2 separate regions of the Homo sapiens genome follow, and region 1 is linked to region 2. Evidence: fine-mapped QTL for protein levels in blood plasma. Region 2 holds a variant in brackets. A gene starts in the other region. All regions are shown on their reverse strands.

Region 1 (4,315 bases), not on the chromosome of region 2:
TTAAATCCTAAATCCTAAACACAGAGCATACCCAGTGTGAAGGGGACAACAGACTCATCCTGTAGACACGGACTGAGAGACAAAATCAGATGGACAAGACTCTGAGACTCAGCATAGGGCTGGAGGATTCACAGAAATATATGTGAATATATATAATGTATATACATTCTGTTATACATAGGTTGGTGTAGATATAGGTTGGTGCAAAAGCAATTGAGGTTCTTGCCATTGTGGGCTTCACATAACAATCTGGGGAAGGAGCGGAGGAAGAGGATTTTCTGTCTGTCAATTCACTCCAAAAAATATCTGCAGAACACTTCCAGTGCCCAAGGCTGGGCTGAGGGTGTGGGCCATGCAGAGATGTTCCCTAACCTTGGAGACTGCCCTGCTGGGGGGGACTTAGAGGATATGTACAAATGCTGTTTTATGGAACATGTTCTATTTATCATGCTCTATTAAATGTATCTTCTACTAAAGCCCTACAGATTGGAGTGGAGGCTCTGAGGAGAAGGAATCCTGGGCTGGGATGGCAGGATTTGCCTAACCCTTGTTCCACGAATGGATACCACCCTCTCCCTGGTGTCTGTGAAGGGCTTCTCCATGTATGAAATGCTGACCAGGTCCTACATTCCCTGCACAGCTCTGCGAGAGAGGTCAGGGCAGCCAGCTTACTGTCCTTTCTCTGATGGGGAGAGCAGCAGGGCGGGCCCTGCACTGTCTTCTGCTGACAAGGAAAGCAGCACCCAGAGGAGAAGCTGAGCAACATGTCCCACCAAGCCTGGGAACTGCCTCTGTGGGGTGCCCAGCAGGAAAGCTCCCTGGTGAGCCTAACACAATCCCTCCCTTCCTGCCACAGTGAAATTCCAGGCTGGGGTGGGACTCTCCCGAGCTGCAGTGGTGCTGGTGCCTGGCTCCCCACCAGGAGCGGCTCCATTATTTATACCTGTCCAGGTCTGGCATTGAGGGAGGGGCTGCCCTGCCTGCTCATGGGAGGATTCCCACGAAGCTCGGATAGAAGAGTGCTGCTGCTTCTCCCATGGAGCACCCACATGCTCCCTGCTCCCATGGAGCACCACACACTCACCGTTGGTCCCTGGCACATGGATCTGAGCTTGGCACACTCTAGCAATCCTCAGACTAGCCAGAACGCATTCCTGCTCTGCCAAGTCCTCTTTCTTCACAACACAGCTGGGAGGAGAATGAATGGGGAGAAGAGAATGTCCCAGTGTCTCAGGAGGGGTGGGGCTTCCCTGAGGGCAGTGAGGTCTGTACCCGGGACCTGTGAGTGTATGTGGTGGTGGGGATATACCCCGATATCGATCTTTGAGTGGAGCAGGAGCATCCCACTACGAGTCCTCAGACACTTGCTTCAGGCTTGGATCTGTTCTGTTCTATCAGGAGCCGAGGGTCCCCTGGTATGTCTCAGGCCTCCAGGACACTCACATCTGTTCTCCAGAAAGCAACCAAATGTGAAAATGGTGAGCTCAGCACAATTCATCTCTGAGGGTCTCAGAAATGCTCCAGCCAGGGAGGCCACCCAAACCATTTTGCTCAAGACCTGTAAGACCGGCTCCGGCCATTGGTCTGTCTGCCGAGATTGACCTGTCAGCTGCTTGCTCATCGCAGCCCTCTGGTGAGAAGTCACTGTTTCAGCTGATCCTCAGCACCAGGGAGTCATTTTCCCACTGCCTTGGCTTCCTTGTGGCCAACCGCAGGCCCTGGTGAGAGATTCCTGAGCCTGGGTCTGGTCCTGTTCTTCTACTCTTGAGAATATAGCCCCTCCTCCCTGAGGCTTTGAAGCCATCCCCATTGCATTCCTACCTCCAGCCTCGGGCCACAGGGCGCCCCCGAAACTCTGAACAGCCCAAGCACTGTCCTGCCTGAGAGCCCTGCTTCTATTTGGGGGACGGCAGAGAGGTGGCCCCACTCAGATCTGCTGCCAAAAAGAGTGGGTGTGGTTTAGAACAGACGTGTGTTAAAACCTCATCAGAAACCCCCTTTCCTCCACCTGGTGCCACAACCCCCCAGACAAGTTTTGCAGAGGGGATCTCAAAGGGCCCTCCCTAAAGCAGCTGGCAGATTGTCATGCCAGCTGCCTGGGCCCACAGGCCTGCTCTGGCTAGCCTTTCTGGCAGGACAATCCATAGACTTAGAATCCCGTTTTCCATTGCCTTGGCCCTGAAGGAGGCTGTGGGCTACAGCATAGAGAAAGCAGAGCAAGTCCCGCTGCTTGGAACAGGGTGGTTCGCCGTTATAACAGGCCGTCAGACTCTCAACATGTTCCTGATGAGATTAGAAGCTCCTGCAGGTATGTGTTTGTGGCGGCCTTCAGCCTGTATCAACACATACGATGACTCATTTCTTCCCTAGTGGAATAGAGCTTGCTGGAACACACCTGGGGGGCTGGGGAACCGGCAGAGTAGCTACCCCCAAAGAGAGACGCTATAGCCCATGAGTCTCAGGGTTTTTTTTTAAGGGATTGCATGGGATCCCCGGGTTTCCTAAACCCCCCACAGAGTCCTGCCCAGGCCAAAGAGCAAGGAAAAGGTCAAAGGGCAGAAAAAATGCTGAGTTAGGAGGAGCTATGGAAGGATAAACCTGGCCTTAAAGAGGTCAAAGTGGTTTATAGGGGGCGCTGAGGGCTTCCCACATTCTCTGGCCTAAACCTTGCAGGCAGATCTGCCCAGTGGGCTCTGGGATAGCTGTGCCTTCCCTAAGAAAAAAATTGTGCAGAAAAGGATGAAACTCTATTTTCCCTCTAGCACATAACCAAGAATATAAGGCTACAGATTGCCTTTCCCAGAGGGGAAAACCCTGCAGCAACCTGCTGCCTGGAAAAGTGTAAGAGCAGATCACTGGGGAATCGTTTGCCCCCCGCTGATGGACAGCTTCCCCAAGCTGGAAGGGCAGGTGCTCAGCATGTACCGTACTGGGATGGTTGTCAATACTCCTGGTCCTGTAAGAGTCCCCAGGACACTGGCCATGCCAATGCCCCCTCAGTTCCTGGCATCCTTTTTGGGCTGCTCACAGCCCCCAGCCTCTATGGTGAAGACATACTTGCTAGCAGCGTCACCAACTTGCTGCCAAGAGATCAGTGCTGCAAGGCAAGGTTATTTCTAACTGAGCAGAGCCTGCCAGGAAGAAAGCGTTTGCACCCCACACCACTGTGCAGGTGTGACCGGTGAGCTCACAGCTGCCCCCCAGGCATGCCCAGCCCACTTAATCATTCACAGCTCGACAGCTCTCTCGCCCAGCCCAGTTCTGGAAGGGATAAAAAGGGGGCATCACCGTTCCTGGGTAACAGAGCCACCTTCTGCGTCCTGCTGAGCTCTGTTCTCTCCAGCACCTCCCAACCCACTAGTGCCTGGTTCTCTTGCTCCACCAGGAACAAGCCACCATGTCTCGCCAGTCAAGTGTGTCCTTCCGGAGCGGGGGCAGTCGTAGCTTCAGCACCGCCTCTGCCATCACCCCGTCTGTCTCCCGCACCAGCTTCACCTCCGTGTCCCGGTCCGGGGGTGGCGGTGGTGGTGGCTTCGGCAGGGTCAGCCTTGCGGGTGCTTGTGGAGTGGGTGGCTATGGCAGCCGGAGCCTCTACAACCTGGGGGGCTCCAAGAGGATATCCATCAGCACTAGTGGTGGCAGCTTCAGGAACCGGTTTGGTGCTGGTGCTGGAGGCGGCTATGGCTTTGGAGGTGGTGCCGGTAGTGGATTTGGTTTCGGCGGTGGAGCTGGTGGTGGCTTTGGGCTCGGTGGCGGAGCTGGCTTTGGAGGTGGCTTCGGTGGCCCTGGCTTTCCTGTCTGCCCTCCTGGAGGTATCCAAGAGGTCACTGTCAACCAGAGTCTCCTGACTCCCCTCAACCTGCAAATCGACCCCAGCATCCAGAGGGTGAGGACCGAGGAGCGCGAGCAGATCAAGACCCTCAACAATAAGTTTGCCTCCTTCATCGACAAGGTGAGCTACGATCTTTTGTAAAAAATCACTGTGGGTCTGAAATAAATGCCAAAGAGAGAGAAAGAAGGAAGATGTTTTGGCTTTGTGCAAATACTTTTATAGTTGTACAGTTCTGTGTTTCCGTTTGTTTCTGTGCCCTGGATTTGTGGACACGTTCTGAATTAGACTGGCAGCTGGGAAGGGAGAATTATTTCTTCCCATTCAGAGGTTAGCTCACAAGGGCCTCTTAACAACTGTTGGACAGAGAGATGAATTTCATGCCATATATAAAGGGGCTGACTGTACAGGAAGGTAGACAAGTGCATGGGCAGCAGCCTGAGTGCCTTTGCAGCCACCCCTGAGCCGGGACACACTCCAAGCAGC
Region 2 (4,391 bases):
CAGTCCGGTGCCCACCTGGGTCCACATGCAGCTGGCAGGTGTTTGCTAGTGTGCCCACCCATGTCTGTTCCCCCCACGTGAGTTATGTGCTTACAACGAGTCATTTCTTTGCATTTTCCAACTTTCTTACATTTATATTTAATTAAAGATGATCTAAACTGAGAAATGAATGTGAAAAGAAACAAAGCTCTTTTTTGTTTGGTTTTTAACTAAATTAAATGTTTTTAACAAGTTGAAACATGAATCATTTAAAAAATTGCTATCAAATCCACAGAGGGCAATCCACTCATATAGTTGACTATAAAGCTTGAGGAGGAATTCATAAAAATCTAAAGGTTTTACACATTCAGATTGATTAATAAATGTCGAGATATGGTCCACTTCAAAAATAAGGAAAGTAATTATTGTAGATGTTGCACTGGAGCATAGTTTATGCAGGAAATACACCAGAGACCTTCTACTGGTGACCCCATATTCGAAGAAGAAAAGCCTCTGCTCTACGTCAAAAGGTGTCAAGTACACTTGTGTTTTCAATGAAAATATAAAATGTTTAAGGTATATTTACACCATCATTTAAGGTTACCCACTTTAGCCATTTTTTAATTAATTGATCAATCACATGGGGAAAGTGCTCCTAACATACCTACAGCAAACTAATGCTTTTAACCCAATACTGCGTATTATGATTGCAAGTACATCTTCATTGGGACATAGTATTACAGTAGACATAAGACACTCATCAAAAGTGTAAACTCAAGGTACTTTGTGAAAGGGAGGTCTAGGGGTCAAGGAAGATTTGCAAAGGACATGATGATTGAGCTGACACCTAGGAGATAAGAAGGAGCTGGCACAGCAGGACAAAGGTGAAGAGGGTCCCAGGCAGGAGGGTGTGTGCTTGGGGTGGTGAAGGAACAGAAGTAAGGCCAGTGTAGAAAAGTTTAGCAAGCCAAGCAAACAGCAGCTGGGGGTTACTTAAATAATGCTGGGCCCTAGCACATTTGGGAAGTCTTTGGGTCTTATTTTAAGGGCACTAGGAAGGGCTTTAAACAGGGAAGTTACATTTCTTAGAGATCATGTGTACAGCTACAAGTAGCCCCAACCAGTGGTGATAGGGTCTTGGACTTGGTGAAGGCAGTGTGGCTGGTGGCAAGTGGCAGAAGTAAATGTGATCTAACACTGACTGTTCCTGGCAAAACCCTGGCAGGTAAGTTAGTAGCAGGTCAATATCCCACAGCAAAGAAACAAGGACCAAAAAATGACTGACTTTTGACTTTTCACTTCTTTTTTTTTTGTATGTACCCATCAGAGTTTATATAACCTTTTGCTCCCTTCTGTCACTTTGAAAACAAGCAAACTAAGCCTTCAAACTTCAGACTTCAAACTCAACCTACAGTCATTCCCATGTTCCTTCTGGTTAACAATTTACAAATGACATATTTAAATGTTAGCATTTTGTAGAGAGAATCAGGAGAATCAGGGTTTTTTTTTTTTAAAATCTGGTACAATTAGGTGATCCTATTTAGTTTACCGTTTGCTTGCTACTTGTAAGAACTAATAACTTCACCAGATAAAGTTTAGATTTAATCTGCACTTTAATCTCAAGAATTCGAGATAAATAGTGGTAAGGAAGGAAGTACAATGCGTACAGCTAATGAAACCCAGGAAGATGAGTCAATGCATAGAAATAATTCCAACCCAAATAAATACTATTTAAAATGCTACTTAGAGTTTTGCCGTAATACTAGACACAATATGGCAAATCATCCTCAAGAATACAAGAACTAAGGTGTTTCCAGTCCTCTTTAACACCTGGGATGCAGAATGTTTGGAGAGCTAAATTGTTACTATTAACAGTCTTAATACCTGGCTACCAACACAGTAGAGGAAACAGTTTTTAAAGTGTCATGCATCCCTTCAAATATTTATACTTGATGGGATATGCTTAATGGGAGCATACTTGATGGGATATACTTGATGGGAAATGCTTAATGAAACATTTGCACATCTAAAAAGGCATGCAATTTCTATTGAAATCCTGTCTGCCTCTTATTCTAAGCAGTGGGACTATTGACCCACATTTTAAAATAAACTATAGAAAAGGAACTGTAACTTTTACACATTTTTAAAAGACAACATTTCAGAAATCTGAGAAAAATATAGACCATGTCCCCCAAAATGTGAAAAATTTAAGAGTAAAAATAAGATTTGTGTCCCAATCTAAATGTTTCTGAGGATTAAAACACCTCAGTATTTCTGTTTTACAAGGCTTCATCCAGATGTTAGGGCCCAAGGACCATGGTCACCCTGCAGAATAAGAAGCCAAGACCAAAAGGAATGCTTAGACTTCCCATCTCCTTGTTAAATATAAAATAATATTTTAAAAATCTTATTTTCAGGGTCATAGAGGTAGAAGTGATTTTGTAAATCTAATCCTTTCATCTTTTGAACAAAAAAAATTAAATCTAAGAGGTGAAGTAATACACTCAAGCTGACATGGTTAGTTAGTAATCAAATCCTGTCCTAACTCAGAATTCAGTTTTATAACACGATAGTGCCTTCCTCCTCTGGTCTTATAAATTAAAGATAGAATAGAGAAAGAGGAAGAGTGGGAGGATGGGGAGGACAGTAGGAGGAGGAGGAAGAAAATGTACTCACCTTTCTTTTCAAATAAAACTACATCT[C/T]TCATCCTAATGATTATGGAGGACTTCCTGTTTTCAGCCATTATCACACATTGTTGCTCTTTACTGTGATATTGGAATGCCCTGCAGAACGAAGCAGGAAATCCAATAAGTATTTTTCTTTATTTAAAGAAAACAAATGTTTATTAATAAGTGAGACATGCTAAAGATCATTGAATATCTTGAGGGACCAGAGAGCTCAGAATTGCTGCCTCTTTCAGTTATTTGGGCATGGCATCGATGAAGTACTGAACAAAATACACCAACGTGGCAGCAAATCTTATCTGCCCTTACCTTCCCTCCCTCATAATTTTCCCTTTCTTCCTGTTTCAACTGCTTTACTTCTTCTTCACTCATCTTCTTAATTTTTGTTTTTGGGTTGGAAAGAAGCAACTCTGGTTGCTTTGAACCCATTCGCCAAGATAGTCCGTCTCCATGACCTCCCAACTCTGATCAGTTCCCCTGAACCTCTGCTCCACATTCCACCCCACCCTGGCCCCTGACCCCTCCCATCTCCATCCCGTGGTCCTGCTATGGGTGCTCAGTCTGGATTCCATAGCTACCTTCCCAAGCCCGTCACCTACACAAAGTCTCTGCTTTAGTCAACTTCATCTCTTAATGGTCCCCCTCAGAAGGTGCAGGGCCGCATCTTCCCCTGCCTTCCTGGTGCTTGTCAAGAGCTCTCTCAACTCCAAACCCAGCTCAGTTCCCACCTCCTCCCTGAGCCTTCTCTAGCTGCCTCAACCTTAGGCACTGTTCTTTCTTCTGGATCTGGGTAGAGCATGCATTGATTATGCCTGTACCTCACTTGGGCTGTCTTTTTTTTTTTTTTAACATTATATCCAGTTTCTTTGACTACACCTTAAATACTAAAGGGCAGGCACTGGATCTTGTAGCTATAAGTCATTGCTCAGATCTATCTAGGACACTTTCATTCACCTGATCCTCAACAAACATTTACTGATGATGATGTTGAAAACTGGAGCTCAGAACAATAACTGCTAATGTTTGTGTCCGGTGTAAAAACAAATAACTTCCTTTGAGGGTATTTTTCTAACAAAGACTCCAATAAACCTTAACAAGAAGCTGTTAGTATGGCTTCACATACTGTGAGCAAATATAGTTCCAAACTCTGGCTCCATAAATTTCTCTTTCCTCTTAAATCATTAATAAATTTGTGAGTAAATTACTTGCCATCTGAATTACAGATTCCTGCGTAGGTGCAACGACAATGGAAATACCTGCAGGTGAATTCTTCGTCCTCCTCACATTTTGCTGCACATTCTTCTATACTTCCTGCTCCCAGCTGCTTCTTAGTGACACTGAACAGTGAAGCCCCCTGGGTATTCACATAGTCATCCAGAGGCTCTCCTTGACCTAGAGGTGGGAGATCCAAGTGGAATAAATGGTCAGTAAATCAATGTCAATGTCTAATTGTCATGACTTCCTTTTAATCTATTTGGTTAGCATTAACCAAATAAAACTTTCTGTTTACTGGAAGTAGAATGGGTAGCTATGAATCAAAATGTTTAGTTAAGAACACACAGTCGGGCATTTGGACATAAATAAAGATGGCAACTAAAGACACTGGGGACTACCAGAGAAGGGAGAGAGGGAGCAAGGCAAGGGCTGAAAAACTACCTATTTAGTAGGTATTTAGCTCACTACCTGGGTGATGGGATCATTTGTACCCCAAAGCTCAGTGTCACGCAA

Which allele goes with the higher level. Positions count from the first base shown, and alleles are read on the strand shown. Strength reflects both the effect of a copy and how common the allele is.
As copies of T replace C in region 2, the plasma level of the protein whose gene starts at base 3,300 in region 1 goes down (weak association).

What was found. PIP is the chance, under the fine-mapping model, that this variant and not a neighbour inherited with it causes the effect. The UK Biobank Pharma Proteomics Project read protein levels with antibody pairs (Olink). The fine-mapping took linkage between variants from a reference panel, not from the people measured, so its PIPs are less certain.
Region 1: KRT5 starts here. The variant in region 2 is fine-mapped to the plasma level of the KRT5 protein (UK Biobank, PIP 0.98).

Annotation. Positions count from the first base shown.
Region 1 is chr12:52,519,379-52,523,693 of GRCh38, reverse strand. It overlaps KRT5 (keratin 5), which reads left to right and starts at 3,300. Exons shown (of 9, transcript NM_000424.4): 1 at 3,300-3,952. The coding sequence starts at 3,398. RefSeq lists enhancers at 428-1,393, 4,213-4,315.
Region 2 is chr6:160,706,071-160,710,461 of GRCh38, reverse strand. PLG (plasminogen) reads right to left here. Exons shown (of 19, transcript NM_000301.5): 2 at 3,920-4,055; 3 at 2,656-2,762. Among named protein-coding and RNA genes, the nearest start is that of PLG, 6.0 kb to the right of the region's middle. The variant C/T (reference allele first, on the strand shown) is at 2,682.